Linked DNA regions of Homo sapiens. The protein of the gene in region 4 interacts with the protein of the main gene of each other region in a pairwise test. Each region holds a gene or a part of one and is shown on either strand. Other genes may lie near its edges. The genes, in order: DPPA2, ZBTB43, ZBTB8A, MCM10 and MCM6.

Region 1 (4,427 bases), on a different chromosome or scaffold from region 4:
TAATATCTATATTTACATATAGATAGAGAGACAAATAGCATATATATATACAGAAAGAGACAAAAAGCATGATTTGTAGACAAAGGAAGCATCAGATCAAGACTAAGATATGGCAGAGATGTTGAAATTACCAGACCAGGAATTTAAAACAGTGTTGATTAATATGCTAAGGGCTCTAACAGAAAAAGTGGACAAGATACAAAACAGATGAGTAATGCAAGTGGGAAGATGGAAATTCCAAGAATCAAAATAAAATGATAGAAATTAGAAGAAAATACTAACAGAAATGAAAACTGCCTTCATGGACTCATCTATAGCTGGACTGCCAACAAAAGAATCAGAGGGCTTAAACAAATGTCAATAGAAACCTCCAAAACTGAAAAGCAAAATGAAAAATCTTTTTAAAAAGAACTGAATATCCAAGAATTGCGAGGCAATTACAAAAAGGTTTCAACATGTAATGAAAATACCAGAAGAGAGAAAGGAATAGAAAGTTGTGAAGCAATGACTGAAAATATCCCAAAATTAATGACATACAAAACCAGAGATCCAGGAAGCTCAGAGATAGGAAGTAGGATAAACACCAAAAATTCAACACCTAGGCATATCATACTCAAACTGCAGAAAAACAAAGACAAATAGAAAATCGTAAAAGTAAGAGAAAAAAACACCTTAACTGTAAAGGAACAAAGGTAAGAATTACATTGGACTTCTCTCCGTAAGCCTTACAAACAAGAAGAGAGTAAAGTGATATTTAAAAAGAAGGAAACAAAGCTGGGCGTGGTGGCTCACGCCTGTAATCCCAAAACTTTGGGAGGCTAAGGCAGATGGATCACCTGAGGTCAGAAGTTTGAGACCAGCCTGACCAACATGGAGAAACACTGTCTCTACTAAAAATACAAAAATTAGCTGGGTGTCGTGGCACATGCCTGTAATCCCAGCTGCTTGGGAGGCTGAGACAGGAGAATTGTTTGAACCCAGGAGGTGGAGGTTGCAGAGAGCCAAGATCGCGCCATTGCGCTCCAGCTGGGAAAACAAGAGCAAAAACTCTGTCTCAAAAAAAATAATAAAAAAAAAAGGAAGGAAAGAAATGAGAAAATTATCTGCAAAAGATATATCTGATAGAGGACTGTTATTCAAAATATACAAAGACCTCTTAAAACTCAATAATAAAACAACCCAATTAAAAAATGTGCAAAAAGGCCAGGCAAAATCCTAGCACTTTGAGAGGCTGAGGCTGATGGATCACTTGAGCCAGGAGTTCGAGACCAGCCTGGGCAACATGGCAAAACCCCATCTCTACAAAAAAAAATAGAAAAATTAGCCAGGCATGGTAATGTGCACCTGTAGTCCCAGTAGGATACTGAGGTGGGAGAATCTTGCTTGAGCCCAGAAGGTCAAGGCTGCAGTGCGCCATGATCACACCACTGCACTCCAGCCTGGGTGAAAGAGCAAGACATTCTCTCAATAAAAAATAAATAGTAAGTTAAAAAATAAAAATTGTGCAGAAGACCTGAAAAGACACCACACCAAAGAAGATACACAGATGAGAAATAAACATATAAAAAGATGCTCTACTTCATATCATTAAGGAATTCCAAATTTAAAAAAATGTGATACTGGCTGGGCACAGTGGCTCATGCCTGTAATCCCAGCACTTTCAGAGGCCAAGGTGGGCAGATCACCTGAGGTCAGGAGTTTTAGATCAGTCTGGCCAACATGGCGAGACCCCATCTCTACTGAAAATACAAAAATTAACCAGTCATGGTAGCGTGTGCCTGTGGTCCCAGCTACTTGGGAGGCAGAGGCAGGATAATCACTTGAACCCAGGAGGCAAAGGTTGCAGTGAACTGAGATCACGCCACTGCACTCCAGCCTGGGTGACTGCACTCTCTGAGAGAGTCTGTCTCAAAAAAAAAAAAAGCACTGAAATACTGTGGCACGCCTATTAGAATGGCTAAAATCCAAACAATACGAAATACTAAGAAAGATATGGTGCAACAAGAACTCTCATTCATTGCTGGTAGGAATGCAAAATGCTACAGCCACTTTTAAAGACAGTTTGGCAGAAATGAGCTATCAGGCCATGACAACACATGGAGGAATCTTCACTACATATTGCTATCTGAAAGCCAATATGAAAAGGCTACACACTGTATAATTCTAAGTATACACAACATTCTGGAAATGGCAAAGCTATGATAGGCCAGGCACACTGGCTTATGCCTGTAATCCCAGCACTTTGGGAGGCTAAGGCAGAAGGACAGCTTGAGGCCAGAAGTTTGAGACCAATCTCGCCAACACAGTGAGACCCATCTCTACTAAAAATTAAAAAATAAAACTAGCTGGGTACGGTGGCACACACCTGTAGTCCCAGTGTCTCAGAAGGCTGGGCCAGGAGAATCCCTTGAGCCTAGGAGTTCAAGGCTGCAATGAGCTATGACTGCACCATTGCACTCCAGCCTGGGTGACTGAGCAAAAAGATCTATGGTTTCCAGTGTATGGGCTTGCGGGGAGGGATGAATTGGTGCAACACAAGGGATTTCTAAGGTAGTGAAACTATTCTGTATGACACTATGTTGGATAAATGTCATTTTACATTTGTCAAAACCATAGAATGTACAACACGAATAATAAAACCTAATATGAACTATAGAGTTTAGTTAATAATAAGGTATCTGCTCGGTGTAGAGGCTCACACCTGTAATCCCTGAACTCAGGGAGCCTGAGGTGGGAGGACTGCTGGAGCCCAGAAGTTTGACTAGCCTGAGAAACATGGTGAGACCCCATCTCTATAAAAAAATAATAAAATAGCCGGGCACGGTGGCTCACGCCTGTAATCCCAGCCCTTTGGGAGCCCAAGGCGGGTGAATCACGAGGTCAGGAGCTCAAGACCAGCCTGGCCAACATGGTGAAACCCCATCTCTACTAAAAAAATACAAAAAATTAGCTGGGCATAGTGGCGGGTGCCTGTAATCCCAGCTACTCGGAAGGCTGAGGCAGGAGAATCGCTTGAACCTGGGAGGCGGAGGTTCCAGTGAGCTGAGATCGGCGTCACTGCACTCCAGCCTGGTGATAAAGTATGATTCTGTCTAAAAATAATAATAATAATAATAATAATAAAATAGCCAGGCACAGTGGCTCACGCCTGTAATCCCTGCACTTTGGAAGATTAAGCGAGTGGATTGCTTGAGCTCAGGAGTTCAATGGTCTTGAACCAGGCTGTTCACCTGAGCAACACGGTGAAACCCGTCCTCTACCAAAAATTAAAAAAAATTAGCTGGGCATTATGGTGTGTGTCTGTAGTCCCAGCTACTTGGGAGGCTGAGGTGAGAGGATGGCTTGAACACGGAAGGCAGAGGTTGCAGTGAGCTGAGATCGTGCCACTGCACTCCAGCCTGGGTGACAGAGCCAGACCCTGTCTCAAAAATAAACAAATTTTTAAGAAAGAAAAAGAGGCCGGGCACGGTGGCTCACGCCTGTAATCCTAGCACTGGGAGGCTGAGGCAGGTGGATCACCTGAGGTCAGGAGTTCCAGATCAGCCTGGCCAAAATGGTGAAACCCCGACTCTACTAAACATACCAAAAAAAAAAAAAAAAATTGACTGGGGGCTGGGTGCGGTGGCTCCCGCCTGTAATCCCAGCACTTTGGGAAACCGAAGCGGGTGGATCCCAAGATTAGGAGTTCGAGACAAGCCTGGCCAATATGGCAAAACCCCGTTTCTACTAATACAAAAAAATTAGCCGGGTGTGGTGGCACATGCCTGTAATCCCAGCTACTCGGGAGGCTGAAGCAGGAGAGTTGCTTGAACCCGGGAGGTGGGAGGCGGAGGTTGCAGTGAGCTGAGATCACGCCACTGCACTCCAGCCTGGGCAACAGAGTGAGACTCTGTCTCAAAAAAAATAAAATAAAAATTTAGCTGGGCGTGGTGGTGTGCACCTGTAATCCCAGCTACTTGGGAGGCGGAGGCAGGCGAATTGCTTGAACCTGGGAGGCAGGGGTTGCAGTGAGCTGAGATCTCATCATTGTACTCCAGCCTGGGCGACAAGAATGAGACCCCGTCTCAAAAAAAAAAAAAAGAAAAAGAAAAAGAAAAAGAAAAAAGAATAATGTATCAATATTGACTCATTAGTTTTTTTTTTTTTTTAGAGACTATGTTGCCCAGGCTGGAGTGCAGTGGCAATTCACAGGTGTGATCACAGAGAACTACAACCTTGAACTCCTCCTGGGTGCAAGTGATCCTCCTGACTTAGCCTTCCCGGTAGCTGGGACTACAGGTGACTACCACCATGCCCAGCCCTGCCTCATCAATTGTAAAAAATGTAGCACACTAATGCAAGTTACTAACAGAGGAAAATGGAGGGGGTGTGAAGCACCGTGTACATGGGAATACATGGGAACCCTATACTTTTCACTCAAGTTTTCA
Region 2 (3,500 bases), on a different chromosome or scaffold from region 4:
ATAGGAAATAACAGCAACTACTATTTATGACATACATATACAAATATATAAACTGCTTAATACAGACATTGTACAAAGTCTATGCAAAGCACTTTATATGCTCTGTCTCACTTAATCTTCACAGCAACCCACTCAATAGGTATTTTTTACTTCCATTGTACAGAATTGGAGATAGACAAAAAAGCTAAGCAACTTAAGGTCATATAACTGGTAAGCAGTAAAATTGAGATTTAAATCCAAAGTACTTGTTCAGGCCCACTATAGCTTAAGAGGTGGAAAGAAAAGGTGAATATAATTTTTTCTTCTTTTTTTTTTTTTTTTTGAGATGGAGTCTCTGTCGCCCAGGCTGGAGGGCAGTGGTGCCACTTCAGCTCACTGTAACCTCCGCCTCCCAGGTTCAAGCGATTCTCCTGCCTCAGCCTCCTGAGTAGCTGAGACCACAGGTGCGTGACACCACGCCCAGCTAATTTTTGTGTTTTTAGTAGAGATGGGGTTTCACCATGTTGGCCAGGTTGGTCTCGAACTCCTGACCCTCATGTGATCTGCCCACCTTGGCCTCCCAAAGTGCTGGGATTACAGGCATGAGCCATCGTGCCTGGCTGTGAATATCACTATAGTTTCAGAGTATGGAAAGTAAACGTGAATATCATTTTCACAAATAATCTATATAATTTTATTATATACAATGCATTCACAAACTTTCGCACGCTGACCATCCTTAGACTTAAGATGGCCCAAGCCAGGCATGGTGGCTCACTCCTGTAATCCCAGTACTTTGGGAGGCCGAGGCGGGCGGATCACCAGGTCAAAAGATGGAGACCATCCTGGCCAACATGGTGAAACCCCTTCTCTACTAAAAGTACAAAAAAAAATTAGCTGTGCATGGTGGCCCATGCCTGTAGTCCCAGCTACCTGGGAGGCTGAGGCAGGAGAATCACTTGAACCCGGGAGGCAGAGGTCGCAGTGAGCCAAGATCTCGCCACGCGCTCCAGCCTGTGTGACAGAGCGAGACCCCATCTCAAAAAAAAAAAAAAAAAAAAAAAAGACGGCTGGGCACAGTGGCTCATGCCTGTAATCCCAGCACTTTGGGAGCACGAGACGGTGGATCACCTGTGGTCAGGAGTTTGAGACTGGCCTGGCCAAGAAGGCGAAACCCTGTCTCTACTAAAAATACAAAATTAGCTGGGCATGCTGACAGATGCCTGTAATCCCAGCTACTCAGGAGGCTGAGGAAGGAAAATCTCTTGAACCTGGGAGGCAGAGGTTGCAGTGAGCGGAGATTCTGCCACTGCACTCCAGCCTGGGCAACAAGAGCGAGACTCCATCTCAAAAACAAACAAACAAACAAATAAACAAACAAATGAACAAACAAACAAAAACCTTAATAAGATACCAGCAGTTAGTGGGCCGGGCGCGGTGGCTCACGTCTGTAATCCCAGCACTTTGGGAGGCTGAGGCCCGTGGATCACAAGGTCAGGAGTTCAAGACCAGTCTGGCCAAGATGGTGAAACCCCATCTCTACTAAAAATACAAAAAAATTAGCCGGGTGTGGTGGCCGGCACCTGTAATCCCAGCTACTCTGAAGGCTGAGGCAGAGAACTGCTTGAGCCTGGGAGGTGGAGCTTGCAGTGAGCTGAGATCCTGCCACTGCACTCTAGCCTGGGCGACAAAGCGAGACTCTGTCTCAAAAAAAAAAAGATACCAGCAGTTTTATGCCACTTTGCACATGTATTTTATTTTTTTAATCCAATAGCAACAGTTCTAAAACAAACACACCGATGCCAGCCTGTTCCACTATGCTTCTTAAAAGCTATTTGGCTTTTTTTAACGCAGATGAAGGGCAACATACTGAAGAAATCCTGAACTAGATGACCTTCAAGATTCCTTCCAACTTTGATGAGTTTAATAACAGCCACTATTTATTATTCGGCTGAGGAACTCCAAGTCAAATTTTATACGTGATTTAAACACCTATTAAACATCCTAAAAACACAGATGACAGCAATATAATAGGGAAGCAGACCCACCAGCTACTTATTGTGAAGTCCTTCAGAGGTTTCTTTAATCAGAGCATATGGTAACTTGCATGCTTACTATAGAAAGCATATTTAAACATAGTAAATGTTGCTTCAGTAAATTTAAAGCCTGGCACAAATGTACAAAAACACCAATACCCTATGCCTACTCTTTACATTAGTGAAATGCTTTAGAGTTCACAAAGCACACTATGTAAACCTGCGTTGTGCAACACTCCCGTATCATTGCATCCTTTTGAAATATGAGTAAACTGAAGCTCAAATTAAAAGACCTGCCAGTGGTTACACGTCTCAGAAATGGCATGTCAGCATTCAAACAGCAGTATAACTCCAAATCTAACATTTTTCTAAGTTAAGAAAAAAAATTCACTTGGCAGAAAAATTTATCTGACATTAAATGTTCTATCAGTGCAAAGTATGGCATTGATGGGCCTTAGAAGGTGTAACATCTCTTCAGAAGAGAAGAAAGAATCTTCTGGTCTAGAGGAATTAAAAATCTTAACAAAATACATTATTATTTTTGCTAAAAGAGAAATGATTACAGTAAGTAACTTTAAAAATGGTATCGTGATCAAGTTGATAGCTTACCTAATGCAAAGCTGTATTCCTGGGATAGAGTTCCTTATGCCATGGCCATCAAAAAGCAACATGAATAGAATGAGGAAGAAGAACCCATTTCAGTTTTGCTTCAAATTAAAATCACATTGACTTCTGGAAGGAAGAGTAACAGTGAAAATGTAAAAGAGATGCTATGTACACGTGTATTTGCTAATAAACACTAGAGATGTACATTAGCGGCAGAAAGAAAAGTAATCAAGACTGGCATTTTTGGTTATATTAAATTCCATTCTGCAACTTCATAGCTCCTGCTTTTGTATTTTTTAAAAAAACAAACTTATTTTGTAATAATTTTAAATTTTCAAAAAAACTGAAAAGATAGTGCATAACTCCCATATACCTCTCATCCATTACTGTGGCATATTCATTAAAACTAGAAAACATGGTCAATGACTATGTAATTTTGCAGAATTAATATATCCTTTGGAACAGTGCTATTGGTCTCCTGACCATTGTCAATCAGTATTCTTCCATTTTTTTCCTAATTAGAACACTTTGGCCAAATCACTTAGTAAAAACTATTTTAAGATGTTTTTTAAAAAAACAAGCCACCTGCTTTATGAAGTTTGATTCATGATTCCCTTCAATTTTAAGCCACGGCTGAATGTTTTACTTAAAAACTTCTAGGACAAACATTCTATTACAGCAAACTCTCTGAGATTCAAAAGAGAAGGTAACGTTCTAGAAACTAACCCCCCATTTATCGATCATCCTTCCATTGAATTTCAATAAAGCCAAGGAAATGTTTTTAACTGTACCCTCACGTGCATTAGAATTCAGGATAAGAAGCTGAAATCAAGAAAGCAGAAGGCAGAAACAGTACTCATTTCAAGAAATTAACAACAT
Region 3 (4,812 bases), on a different chromosome or scaffold from region 4:
TTACAGGCATGAGCCACCACGACCGGCATCAACATCCTTTCCTAACTTCCTTCTGGAAACTAAAAAGTACATTTCCCAGACTCCTTTACAATTCAGTTTCCCCATGTGAAATGTGGCCTATCAATGAGATGTTCTGTGAGATCCGGAAGGCAGAAATGAGGTGGGAACCATCTTTCTTCTGTTTTGGCTGTTAATGCTGGCAAGCACATTTATGGAAACATTGTATTTTTTTCTCATAGCAGCATTCCAGTGTCAAAAGCTTCATGATTGTCAAAAGACAAACATGGTGAAGACAGGAGTCACTATTTGGTAGGAGTTCAGGGGAAGTTCAGGGGTAGCAGGGTTGTTTCCTTTTATTTATTTTCAGAGGCAGGGTCTCACTCTGTCATCCAGGATGAAGTGCTGAAGTGCAGTGGTGCACTCCCAGCTCACCGTAAACTCGAACTCCTAGGCTCAAGGGGATCCTCCCACTTTGGCCTCTCAAAGTGCTGGATTACACTGCGCATGGCCTATAGCAGTTAGTCGACCCTTAAATTACACTAGCAATGTCATTGGCAGCCTCCTGATTCCCTCCCTGGGGGGCCTGTTGGGCAGTCTTTTTTTTTTTTTTTGAGACGGAGTTTTACTCGTTGCCCAGGCTGGAGTGCAACGGTGTGATCTTGGCTCACCGCAACCTCTACCTCTTGGGTTCAAGCGATTCTCCTGCCTCAGCCCCCCAAGTAGCCGGGATTACAGGAACATCCCACCATGCGTGGCTAATTTTTATATTTTTAGTAGAGACAGGGTTTCACCATGTTGACCAGGCTGGTCTCGAACTACTGACCTCAGGTGATCCGCCCGCCTCGGCCTCCCAAAGTGCTGGGATTACAGGCATGAGCCACAGCACCCAGCGAGGTGTTTTGTTTTGTTTTGTTTTGAGACAGAGTCTGACTCTGCCCTCCAGGTTGCAGTGCAGTGACGTGATCTCGGCTCATGGCAACCTCTGCCTCCCGGGTTCAAGCGATTCTGTCTCTGCCTCTGGAGTAGCTAGGACTACAGGTGCGGGCCACCATACCCGGCTAATTTTTGTATTTTCAGTAGAGATGAAGTTTCACCATATTGGCTAGGCTGGTCTCAAACTCCTGACCTCATGATCGGCCTGCCTCAGCCTCCCAAAGTGCTGGGATTACAGGCATGAGCCACGGTGCCTGGCCCCGGCCAGGTATTTCTTTTTATCAATGAGAGCATGGACTAATACAGGGACAATAATAATACCTATAGCTTACAGAGCTGCGAGATGGAGAATATTAGAAGCTAATCCAAGAAACGTGCTTATAACAGTGCCTGGCTTATAACAAGCCCTTGATAAATGTCAGCTATTATTATTATTATTAATTATCTAAACATTTAAAAACACTGCTTTCAATGAGTACAAAATGTAAACATTTTAGAGTTTTATTGCCACACATTTTCTTGTCTTATACAAATGGGGATACAGAAAGGAGGCTCACGCCTGTAATCCTAGCACTTTGGGAAGCTGAGGCGGGTTTATCACCTGAGGTCAGGAGTTCAAGACCAGCCTGGCCAACATGGCAAAACCCCATCTCTACTAAAATACAAAAATTAGCCGGGCATGATGGCGGGTGCCTGTAATCCCAGCTACTTAGGAGGCTGAGACGGGAGAATCGCTTGAACCCTGGAGACGGTGGTTGCAGTGAGCCGAGATTGCACCACTCCACTCCAGCCTGGGCGGCTGAGTGAGACTCTGTCTCAAAACAAAAACAAAAACAAAAACAAAAAATGTGGATACAGAAAAAAAAAATGTTTTTTGACTGGTTTCATCATATTCATGTACCTAGAGAGAGTGAGAGCGATCATTTCAAAACTACATGTGTACCTGGGAATAGCAACCCTCGACTCCAACTAGTCAATTGCAGACCTCACCTTAAGGAAGGATTATTCTTTTTTTTTTTTTTTTTTTTTTTTTAATTTGAGACGGAGTCTAGCTCTGTCGCCCAAGCTGGAGTGCAGTGGTGCAATCTCGGCTCACTGCAACCTCTACCTCCCGGGTTCAAGTGATTCTACTGTCTCAGCCTCCTAAGTAGCTGGGATTACAGGTGCCGGCCACCATGCCCAGCTAATTCTTGCATTTTTAGTAGAGATGGGGGTTTCACTGTTTTGACCAGGCTGGTCTCGAACTCCTGACCTCATGATCCACCTGCCTCGGCCTCCCAAAGTGCTGGGATTACAAGTGTGAGCCACTGCGCCTGGTCTTTTTTTTTTTTTTTTTTTTTTTGCTTTGTTTGTTTTTTGTTTTAGACAGAATCTTTCTCTGTTGCTCAGGCTGGAGTGCAGTGGTGAGATCACAGCTCACTGCAGCCTTGACCTCCCCGGGCTCAGGTGATCCTCCCACCTCAGCCTTCTGAATACAAGTGTGTGCCAAATTATTCTTGAGAAACCATTTTTGCCTTTTTTTCTTTCTTTTTTTTTTTTTTTTTGAGATACAGACTTGCTCTGTCACTCAGGCTGGAGTGCAGTGGCCTGAGAATGAGATCTATAACCTAAAATAAGATTTGCAACCTAAAAGTTTATGTTTTAATGTTGCTGAGTACAGTGGCTCGAACCTGTAGTCCCAGCTACTCAGGAGGCTAAGGCAGGAGGGAAGATCCCTTGAGCCCAGGAGTTCGAGGCTGCAGTGAGCAATGCTCATGCCACTGCACTCTAGCCTGGGCAACAGGGCAAGACTCCATCTCTACTAAAAAAAAAAAAAAAGAAAGAAAAGAAAATTTGTTTATACTTAGAATACTACTCTAATGTATATATTTAAAAAGTCATGGATAAAATTATGGCTTAGTTTGGTTTGCTGAGGTATCTTCTGGTGATGAAAAATACATTGCAGATTTTGGAATAAAACTTCCCCCAGCCGGGCATGGTAGCTCATATCTATAATCCTAGCACTTTGGAAGGCCCAGGCAGGAGGATCACTTGAGCCCAGGAGTTCGAGACCAGCCTGGGCAACATGGCGAGACCTCATCTCTACAAATAATTAAAAAATTAGCCAGGTGTGTGGTAGTATATGCCTGTGGTCCCAGCTACTCAGTAGGCTGAGGTGGGAGGATCACTTGAGCCTGAGAGGCTGAGGCTGCAGTGAGCTGTGATTGTGCCACTGCACTCCAGCCTGGGCAACAGGGCAAGACCCTGTCTCAAAAACAAAAACAAAAAACTTCCCCCAGATATTCTGGAACTGTAAGAATTTTATGTTGGACCTAGTCCAACAGCGCCAGGGAGACAGAGGGAACTGAAGGTGATATAAGGCATCCGCTATGCCCTCCGTGTTTCACATGCTGCTGAGAGCCACAGGATTCAAAGCAATGGAGGTTTTCTGAAGGGTCAGAAAAACAGCCGAAAGAAAACAACTTCATCTTTTGATACAATCATTAATTTTACATTGTTCTGAACTCCACAGAAGTATATTTTCCTTTTTTAAATTCTTGAGACAAGGTCCCACCAGCCTGGAGTGCAGTGGTACGATCTTGGCTCACTGCAGCCTTGGCCTCCGGGGCTCAAGTGATCCTGCTTCAGTCTCCCACATAGGTGGGACTATAACAGTGTACCACCATGTCTGGCTCTTTCTATATTTTAACAGAAAAATCTTTTATTTATTTATTTATTTTTTTTTTTGAGACAGAGTCTCACTCTGTTACCCAGGCTGGAGTGCAGTGGCATGATCTTGGCTCACTGCAACCTGCCACTCCTGGGTTCAAGTGATTCTCATGCCTCAGCCTCCTGAGTAGCTGGGATTACAGGCACGCACCACCACACCTGGCTAATTATTATATTTTTAACAGAGACAGGGTTTCGCCATGTTGGCCAGGCTGGTCTCAAACTCCTGGCCTCAAGTGATCTGCCCGCCTTGGCCTCCCAAAGTGCTGGGATTACACGTGTGAGCCACTGTATGTGGCCCTTTTACTCTATTTTTATGAGAAGGGCAGATACTCAAATTGGCAGGTGAAACGCATTTTATTCAAGACATATTTATTGAGCAACTACTCTATACCAGACTATACCTGGTCCTGAGAATATAGAGGTGATGAAATGTCAAAGGTCAGTGCTCACTTTCAAGCAGCTCACTGTCTAGTAGGAGAGAGAGAGAGTCAGAGAAGAGACAGGAAGAGAAGAGACTTCTAGACAAAGTGACAATACAATGAAGAAAATACTCATAGTAGAAGGGAACTGTAAAACAAAGAAAGCAAATGATTGTACCTGGTAGTATTGAGAAACATTTCCAAAAGGCTCAACGTTTAGGTTGGGTCTTGAAGGATGAAAAGAAGTTTATACATGAGAAAGAGGGCAAAAGGCGTTCTAGCCAGAGAGAGCACCAAATGGGAAGGCAAAAACAGCGTATTAAACAGCATGGCCTCCTAGGGGATGGTAAGAAGTTTGCTATAGCTAGAGACTGTGGGCCTACAGAAGGATGGCAGAAGATGAAACTAGAAAAGTATGTAAGAGCTAGATCTTGGAAGCCCCTCCAGTTTTGGGGGTTCTGAGGCACTTCTGAAGGATTTTAAAAAGAAGAAACACAGGATTATAGGTCTACCAATCATTAGCTGTGTGACTTTGTCAAGTTACTTAACTCTAAGCATTCGTTTCCTTTTTGTAAAATGAGGTTATTGACTGTTTAGAGGCTCTAAGGAAGTCTGTTAAGAGGATTAAATAAGATAATCGCTAAAATAAATAAGATTAAATAAGACAAATAGAAATAAGCACATGAAGAGATGTTTAGCATCATTAATCATTAGAGAAATGCAAATCAAAATCACAATGAGATACTAC
Region 4 (4,812 bases):
ACAACCAAGGATTGCTTCTCATCCTGCCTGGCTTCTGTGTGCTCTATGAGACATCTGTGTGGATGGGGAACCTGATTAAACCCTAGAATCTAACTGCTTTCTACACAACCCTACAATATTTGTGCATGGTTTTAACCTATGTTGACCATTCCAAGAGTAAAACTAGATAAACCCTGTCTCTAAAAAAAAAAATTAGCCAGTCATGGTGATGCGCCTGTAGTCCCAGCTACTTGGGAGGCTGAGGTGGGAACATCACTTGAGCCCAGGAGTTCGAGGCTGCAGTGAGCCCTGATGGGGGACAGAAAAAGACCTTGTCTCAAAAAAAACAAAACCTCCCCAACCCCCACCAAAAGTACATTATCTAGCCCTAGCTACTCAGGAGGCTGAGGTATGAGAATTGCTTGAGCCCAGGAGTTCAAGACCAGCTTGGGGAACATACGGAGACCCTGTCTGAACACCCCTCCAACCCCTGACAAAACCCCTACATTATCAAAGAAATAGGTCCATGCTATTTACCAAGACACAAACCTATGTGAGCCTCCATTTCTGGCTCATTTACACTGATAAGTCCAAGCCTCTGATGACTTGATTATTTCCCCTAAGCTAGTTCTGCCTCTGCATTTATGAATCCATAATGAAATCTGTATCTTTATCACAAATCTTTTCATTTTTTCTTATTTGCATTAGGATATTTATTGATTTTTTTCGAAATGACTAGTATAGGTAATTCATATTATCTATGAATTTTATTTCAAGATAAGGAAGCAATACAAAATACTTGTTATTAAAAAGGGTCCTTGGGTGTGATGGGGTTAACTACTGATTTAGAGCATTTGAAATGCCAATATAAAAATACTGGAATGGGAAAACTCTTTTTGCATATTGCAAGGCAGAAAATAGCAGCAGTGTAGAGCCATTTAAACATAATTTCACAGCCATAACCAAATGCAAACATTTTTATAATATTGATATCTATTTAAGTCATGTTAAATCAAATGATATTCTTCAGTAAAGAGACAAGGACAAAGCTAAAATTTATTAGAAATTCTCCTGTTCTTCAAAGCAAACTCAAACAAACTGACATATACCTACTTTTAGATTTATGTAAAAAACAGATTCTTGGCTGGGTACGGGCATGGTGGCTCACGCCTGTAATCCCAGCACTTTGGGAGGCCAAGGCTGGAGGATCACTTGAGGTCAGGAGTTAGAGATCAGCCTGGCCAACACGGTGAAACTCTGTCCCTACTAAAAACACAAAAATTTGCTTCGTGTGGTGGCAGGCACCTGTAATCCCAGCTACTTGGGAGGCTGAGGCAGGAGAATCGCTTGAACCTGGGAGGCGGAGCTTGCATTGAGCCGAGATGGCGCCACTGCACTTCAGCCTGGGCCACAGACTGAGACTCTGTCTCAGAAAAACAAAATAAAACAAACAACACATTCTTGGTCCTACAGCTAGCACCTTGGCTTTGAAGGACATCGGACATCAACACCATCCTTGAGCTTTTGGGCTCTTACCTCTTTCAGGATGCCTGTGTGTTTTGATTTTGCTTTTAGGATTTTCTGAAATTCCTCAGATTCCAGATAGGCAAGTTGTTCTCTCCTTTTTTTCCTGGCAGGCTCCAATTCATCCTCAGCTAGGGCACAAGGAACAAACATTAGCAGCGACCAAGAAATTTCAGAAAGCCAGTGCGCCTCATCAACTCTACTCCCTCCCACTCCCTCCTCCTCTGCCTACCAGCCCTTCAAACTTGACCTACCCCCGCTGGTCCCAGCAGGGAAAAGCTCTCAGAGGTGAGCCAAGAAGCTGAGCCTAGAATGTGGGGTGGTGGCAGATTTTACCACTAAATAGAATCTCTTTTTCACCTTCAAATAGGCAGCTGACGATAGTAACAGATAACAACAGTGTAAATAATGTTGACAATTATGTTAAAATGATATTGCCAACTTCAGAGTTTTAAAAATAAAGATATGGCAATTTAAAACAAAGGAATTCTAGTTCTGTCAAAGTAAATCTTTATGCTAATATATATATGTACAAAGATCCAATGAGCAATCCTATTCCCAAGTATTCAAATTGTGCCCAATTTCATTCCAATTTAATGTAATTATAAAAAAATCAGTTCCAGCTCACGTCTGTAATCCCAGCACTTTGGGAGGTCAAGGCGGGCGGATCATGAGGTCAAGAGATCGAGGCCATCCTGGCCAACATGGTGAAACCCCATCTATACTAAAAATACAAAAAATTAGCTGGGCGTGGTGGCGCGCGCTTGTAGTCCCACTTACTCGTGAGGCTGAGGCAGGAGGATCGCTTGAACCCAGGAGGCAGAGGCTGTAGCGAGCCAAGACTGCGCCACTGCACTCTAGCCTGGCAACAGAGCAAGACTCCATGAAAAAAAAAAAAAAAATCAGTTCCACCCATAGAAATTCTATTTAGGTATTCTATATAGGAGGAAATGGAAGTAATTGCTTGATATCTGGGTGCTGGTTTGGGTTTAGAACATATTTCCCTTAGAAACAGTTTCTCTTTCCCACTGTTAACTGTGAAACTGCAGTACCTTGAGAAGAAAACATGGTGTTTTTTTCTACACGTTCCTTCACCTCCAGGATGTCCTGAGGGTCCTTTTGTTTCTTCTTAATGCTGTTTGGGTTTGTTTTTGTAAGAACCTGGCCTTTTGCCCTTAATTTGGTGATAGCAGCTAACTAGAAAAAAGGGAATGAGAGGGAGGTAAAGATCTAAAAGATGACAGAGGCACTTATAGACCTGGATCCCTTTTTTATTAGTAACCAGTGAATTCTGGCTGTTCTCTGACAGAAATTGGCAGAACATATCTTAATTTTACTTAGTATTATTAACACAATTACTAGAATATAATAGCATGGGAGACAGGTCTATATGTTGATGAATAAAATCTTAGTTTATTTAAATATAACAAGTTTGACATCAGCAAGACTGCAGGCTTCCAGATCCATAAAGGAGCCACATCACCATTTTGGAAGTTTTAGAATCAGAGAGAATTAAGATAAAGTTCCAGCCAGCTCTGCCACGGACTAGCTTGTAACCCAAGGAAAATTACTTAATTTTTCAAGTATAAAATGGAAATGGGGCTTGGCATGGTAGCTCATTGTAAACCCAGCACTTTGGGAGGCTGAAGCAGGTGGATTTCTTGAGCTCGGGAGTTTAAAACCAGCCTGAGCAACACAGTGAGACTTCATCTGGGCATGGTACAAAATTAGCTGGGCATGGTAGTGCATGCCTGTAGTCCCAGCTACTCAGGGGACTGAGATGGGAGGATCACCTGAGCCCAGGGAGATGGAGGTTTCAGTGAGCTGTGATTGCACCACTGTACACCAGCCTGGGAGACAGAGTGAGACCCTGTCTCAAAACAAACACACAAAAAAAGAGAAGGAAATGATGATATAGCATTGACCTACCTTTGAAGGTCATGGTTGTATGGATGAAATAAGATAATATCTGCAAAGTATGAATCTTTACATAGCAAATACATTCCTGGCCGGGCGCAGTGGCTCATGCCTGTAATCCCAGCACTTTGGGAGGCTGAGGCAGGTGGATCACTTGAGGTCAGGAGTTCGAAACCAGCCTGGCCAACATGGTGAAACCCTGTCTCTTCTAAAAATACAAAAATTAGTCAGGCATGGTGGTGGGCACCTGTAATCCCAGCAATTCGGGAGGCTGAGGCAAGAGAATTGATTGAACCCAGGAGGCAGAGGATGCAGTGAGGCGAGATCGGACTACTGTATTCCAGCCTGGGTGACAGAGCGAGACTCCATCTCAAAAAATATATATATAAATAAATAAATAAACATAGTAAATACATGGCACACACATATCACAAGTACTGAGTAATATGGACATGTGCCATGGTTATTGTAGGTATTCCTGTTGTTATTATTATAGGTAAGGTTTTGGCATACAGCAAGCTTTGCCCTTCATTTGGCTGCAGCTGCTAACTTAAGGGAAGAGAGAGGCTCGATTGGGGCACTCAGGAAGTGGGCAGGTGGGGCTCTGGGTGCCCTACCCCTACTTCAGCCGCAGCAACTCAGCTTTCACCTGTCATGGGACTGGACTTTTGTGTAAGATTTCTTTTAAAGGATTCTTGGTTAGGCACAGTGGCTCATGCCTGTAGTCCCAGCACTTTGGGAGGCTGAGGTGGGACTGCTTGAGTCCAGGAGTGCAAGACCAGCTTGGGCAGCAAAGGGAGGCCCCCATCTCTACAAAAAATACAAAAATTAGCCAAGGCGTGGTGGCATGTGCCTGCAGTCCCAGCTACTACTTGGGAGGCTGAGGCAGGTGGATGAATCGATCCTGGGAGGTTGAGGCTGCAGTGAACCATAATTGCACCACTGCACTCTAGCATGGGTGACAGGGGGATAGTCTGTCTCAACAAATAAAAAATAAAACCGCCAGGCATGGTGGCTCACACCTATAATCCTAGTACTTTGGGAGGCCGAGGTGGACAGATCATTTGAGGTCAGGAGTTCGAGACCAGCCTGGCCAACATGGTGAAACCATGTCTCTACTAAAAATTAGCCGGGCGTGGTGGTAGGCGCCTGTAGTCCCAGGTACTCGGGAGGCTGAAGCAGGACAATCGCTTGAATCTGGGAGGAGGAGGTTGCAGTGAGCCGAGATTGCGCCACTGCACTCCAGTCTGGGTGACAGAGTGAGACTCCTTCTCAAAAAATAAATAAATAAATAAATAAATAAATAAATAAATAAATAAACGTAAAAAAAGGATTCCTTAAACCACCATTTTACAGTCTCACCTCAACAATTCCAAGCATTGTTTTCCTACT
Region 5 (4,471 bases), on a different chromosome or scaffold from region 4:
GAAACTGTGATTTGATCCTAAGAAGTCTGGCAAGGCTCCACAGTATAAACACTGAAGCCACTAAGGGGGACTGGACACTTTTTAAAAAATTGCCCTTTCAAATCTACCCCTGAAGTTAGATTGGACACTTTCAAGCACTCACTCTATGTGTTAACATACCTTCATAGGAAGCATCATATCTCATCAGCACAGTATAAGCTCTCTAGTTTTCTGTAGCAAATTAGTTCAGGTGGTAAGCCAAATTTTAAAAGGTAATCCAGGCTGAGCGCAGTAGCTCATGCCTGTAATCCCAGCACTTTGGGAGGCTGAGGTGGGTGGATCACCTGAGGTCAGGAGTTTGAGACCAGCCTGGCCAACATGGTGAAACACCATCTCTACTAAAAATACAAAAATTAGCTGGGAGTGGTGGCGGGCACCTGTAATCCCAGCTACTCTGGAGGCTGAGATAAGAGAATCATTTAAACCCAGAAGGCGGAAGTTGCGGCGAGCTGAGATCATGCTACTGCACTCCAGTCTGGGCAACAGAGCAAGACTCTCTCAAAAGATAAATAAATAAATAAATAAATAAATAGGTAATTCAAGTTTAGATCAGTTAGCTTCACAGTGTGTTCCAAAGTCCTGAAGCAGATTCCTTGCCTGGGTCGTTTTACTTTACACTGATCCCAAGGAGCACACAGACATGTCCCACCACTAGAAAAGCAACTCTGGACCCTGATCTGAGTAGCTGTTCTTACACCTCCCTACCCCTCAATAATCACAGACTGATCTACCTTCACAGGAAAACGGTTTTTGAGAAGACACAACCCCAATACATGACCTCTGTAATATTTATATAGTGAGCCCTGTGAATTGGCACGACAGTTAAATCTCTGCCACATAATAGGAAAATTTAACCATTCAACATATATTTGATCCTGCTATGTGCCAGGTACCACTGTAGCTCCGGGGCAAAGTCTCTACCCTCACAGAGCTTATATTCCATAAGAGAGACAAACTAACCACTTAAATAAAGAATATACTGCTGGGCCATGTTAAACATTACGAAGAAATACAAGGCAGGGTGACAGCAAGAGCAGAAGGCTACTATTTTGGCAGGCTAGCAAGAAAGGTTTCTTTGAAGAGGTAACATTTGAGCAGACATTGGAGAGGAGGAGGATATCTAGGGAAATGGACAAAGGGTGAGTGCAAAGGCCCTCATATTTGGTGTGCCTAGGGATCAAGGCCAGTGTCACTGGGGTGAAATGGGTATGGGGAAGACTGCTGTGAAATTAGGTGAATGAGGGGACAGGGGTTACACTGTATAATAGTTCTGCAGGCCATGACAAGGAGGCTGAATTTCCTTCTAATGTGAGAGAAGCACTGGAAGGGAGGGTAGTAAAATAATCTGATTTATATTTTAAAAAGACTTATCTGGCTGCTGAGCAAGAAGCCAATACAAAAAAAGGACAATTTTATGAGGCTTCTGCAACAGTCCATGCCTGGTGGCTTGGGTGGGCTGGTGAAGGCGGTAAAAAGAGAAAAGAAAATATACACACACTGAAGCTGGGGGTCAGAGGATTTGCTGCTGAAGAGGAGCTGTGAGGGGAGAGTGGAATCAAGGAGTCAAAGACAATTCCAAGGCATTTGGCCTATAGCAATTGAGTAAGAACAACTCAACTGCAAACAGGGAAGAACAACTCTGTTTTTGAACACATTAAGCACGAGATGCCTGTTAAACGCTCATCAGTAGGCAACCAGCTCTATACATCTGGAGTTTACAGGAGTGGTGAGAGCTGGTGACATAAATGTGGAAGTCATCAGTAGATGGATAAATTCATAAAACCAAATGAGATCACTTAGGTAATGAATGTAAACTATCTGAGAGTAAAGTAAGAAGAGAAAGATTCAGGCCAGGCACGGTGGCTCACGCCTGTAATCCCAGCAGTTTGGGAGGCCAAAGTGAGCGTATCGCCTGAGGTTAGGAGTTCTAGATCAGCCTGGCCAACATGGCAAAACCCCATCTCTACTAAAAAAAAAAAATTAAAAAATTAGCCGGGCGTGGTGGCCGGCGCCTGTAATCCTACTTGGGAGGCTGAGACAGGAGAATCGCTTGAACCCAGGAGGTGGAAGCTGCAGTGAGCTATGCCACTGCACTCCAGCATGGGCAACAAGAGCGAAACTCTGTCTCAAAAAAAAAAAAAAAAAACAAAACCATTCAGGGAAAGAGACTAAGAGGGAATAACCAGTGAGAAAGAAGCCCCAGGAGGATACAGTGACTCAGAACCAAGTGAGGAAGACACTATTTGTAGGAGTGATCAACTGTGACAAAGCTGTGGACAGGCTGAGTACTGAGAATGGCCAGCTGACAGGAGTGGAGAGAAGGTATGTGATGGGCCTGTGAGAGAGTGAGGCAAAGAACTGACCCGGGAAAAGGAATTGCACTGGGCAGTGCTGTCATGAGGTTGATGAGACAGTAAGAACTGTCCACTTGAGATTTCTGGTCATCGATTTAAATAAGACTGGGCTCATAATTATATGCTTTTCTCCAGATACTTTCAGCTGCTTAGATAAGGATACAAAAAAAAAAAAAAGTTATATTTAACCAAGTTTGGGGTTTCGCCAAGCAAGTAAGATGGAAGATTGACTATTGGGTTGGGTAAGGTGGGAACTAAGAATGTGAGGAAAATGAAACATAGAAAGTAGGTGACAGCAGTACGACCAAGGGCAAATATGAGGATGGGAAACAGAAGCTTAAAACACCTAACTAGTAAGACTTCAATCCCACCTTCTGAGATTTAACCTAAATTCTGCTTGTTTCAGCAGAGGAAATAAGTCATTTACCTGCTGTTCATTCTCTCTTATTTTACAACTCATACTTCTGACTACACTCCAATGATTCAAAACAAACAAAGGTCAAAAAAAATTTCACTAGTGAACCTGCAGATACAGGGCATGAACTCCCTCCCTCCCTGATACCAGAGCACGCGCACTTCTGCACCTACATAGTGTGTGAGTCGATGAATAACTTTCTCTATGATTCTTTTTTTATTTATAAGTTCTTCTTCAGAGTCTATCTCTGATTCGATTTCCTTCAAGTACCAGTTAACAAGCTCGCTCCTCTTTAATGCTGACTCGTCCTCTTCTGCAACAAAAAAACACATTCAAATTATCCTAGCAACTCGTACTGTCAGTCCTTGGGTAAATCTCTGCCACATATACAACGAGATAATGTACAGATTAGATAAATGTCAAGCCGTCCGAAAGTACATCTGGTGACGTAAGGTCCGCAATGTTCTAGCATAAGCCTGAAATAACAAGTCATATCACTTGTATTAAAGCATGCCTTATTTTATCCATAAGGAGAGAAACCTAATAAAATAGATTATAAGAAATATGTTTCTTAAAGCTATTAAGATTTCAAAGTATGAAGGTCTTTTCTTCATCTTCTTATGCTTCACCACCTCTGAGAATGCTTGCCAACAGAAACTAAAAGCATAAATTAGGAATGAAGCAACAGCAAGCAAAAATTCTGAAATATAACAACTTTTCCTCTGTAGAAAGGGGAAGGCTTTATGGAACTGGAGTTTACTAAGAAGTAAAATTCATGAGTATTCACTCAAAATAAAAAATTACCTGTTTATTTTAGCAAGGTTCATCTTACTAAGTGAACTGCCTGCTGCTTTTAACAAGTCCAAGGTCTACCAGACTTTTAGAAAGTCCTGGTAAGAACCCTCAACACATAGGAAATGTTTGGACCTGGATAACATAACTATCATAAAACTCAACTTCTGCTGTGTTTAAAACTTACTTGTATGAGGGAGAAAGAGAATAATGACATATAACATGAATCAAGAACACCTTGAGTTCCCAAATCATTTTGTGTGAGACGCGAATGAGGACAAAAGCTGAGGCGTCCTAGTGGCCACTTTGTTGCCTTCTCTCCTACTGGTCTAAAGTTCCCAGGGGAACAAGGGCAGAAACTACAATCTCTTGTTCTCTTCTTTCATAGCAGAGCAAATACTGTGATGACAAAATATTCCAGAAAGCCAGCACAAGCCATCCTTGGGGCTTTTAATCAAGAATTATCTGATGCTTAACTATCAAGTAGAAGTTTAGGTTCAACATCTTGAATTCATCATTTTTCCTTCTGCTTTGTAGTTAACTATAGGGTGATAAAACTTTGAATAGCATGGTAAAGCAGTTAAGGGTAGGAAGCGTACTAGTGTCCAGACGCCACACTTTACCAATAACTACATGAGGATTTTACTCCATTTCTAGTCTGCAATGGCCTTTTGATAGTATAGATTTCTAGGCTCAATTAATTACTGTTAAAATATACCCTAGGGGTCCAGCTGTTTTAAACAGAACCATTGTAAGGGAATAGTAATTTTGCATTTGTAAAAACATTTGTATGTGCTGCTTCATATGTTATCAGGTCCCAAAATTATTAAAATAGGCCCAGAATGTTAAAAAGAAGGACCTACAAAGCTTT

What was found.
Region 1: the proteins of MCM10 (region 4) and DPPA2 interact in a two-hybrid assay, tested with the Homo sapiens proteins (one large-scale study listed by BioGRID and IntAct).
Region 2: the proteins of MCM10 (region 4) and ZBTB43 interact in a two-hybrid assay, tested with the Homo sapiens proteins (one large-scale study listed by BioGRID and IntAct).
Region 3: the proteins of MCM10 (region 4) and ZBTB8A interact in a two-hybrid assay, tested with the Homo sapiens proteins (one large-scale study listed by BioGRID and IntAct).
Region 5: the proteins of MCM10 (region 4) and MCM6 interact in binary tests that used the Homo sapiens proteins (3 or more experiments, as listed by UniProt).

Annotation. Positions count from the first base shown.
Region 1 is NC_000003.12:109,295,621-109,300,047, forward strand, and holds part of DPPA2 (developmental pluripotency-associated protein 2), read right to left. Parts: intron 1-4,427. UniProt on the Homo sapiens protein: Binds to target gene promoters, including NKX2-5 and SYCE1, but not GATA4, and may be involved in the maintenance of the active epigenetic status of these genes.
Region 2 is NC_000009.12:126,808,040-126,811,539, reverse strand, and holds part of ZBTB43 (zinc finger and BTB domain-containing protein 43), read right to left. Parts: intron 3,444-3,500; exon of another isoform or gene 3,348-3,443; intron 2,748-3,347; 5' UTR 2,625-2,747; intron 1-2,624. UniProt on the Homo sapiens protein: May be involved in transcriptional regulation.
Region 3 is NC_000001.11:32,545,292-32,550,103, reverse strand, and holds part of ZBTB8A (zinc finger and BTB domain-containing protein 8A), read right to left. Parts: intron 1-4,812. UniProt on the Homo sapiens protein: May be involved in transcriptional regulation.
Region 4 is NC_000010.11:13,195,511-13,200,322, reverse strand, and holds part of MCM10 (protein MCM10 homolog), read right to left. Parts: intron 2,701-4,812; coding exon 2,556-2,700; intron 1,635-2,555; coding exon 1,516-1,634; intron 1-1,515. UniProt on the Homo sapiens protein: Acts as a replication initiation factor that brings together the MCM2-7 helicase and the DNA polymerase alpha/primase complex in order to initiate DNA replication. Additionally, plays a role in preventing DNA damage during replication.
Region 5 is NC_000002.12:135,841,564-135,846,034, forward strand, and holds part of MCM6 (DNA replication licensing factor MCM6), read right to left. Parts: intron 3,122-4,471; coding exon 2,982-3,121; intron 1-2,981. UniProt on the Homo sapiens protein: Acts as a component of the MCM2-7 complex (MCM complex) which is the replicative helicase essential for 'once per cell cycle' DNA replication initiation and elongation in eukaryotic cells.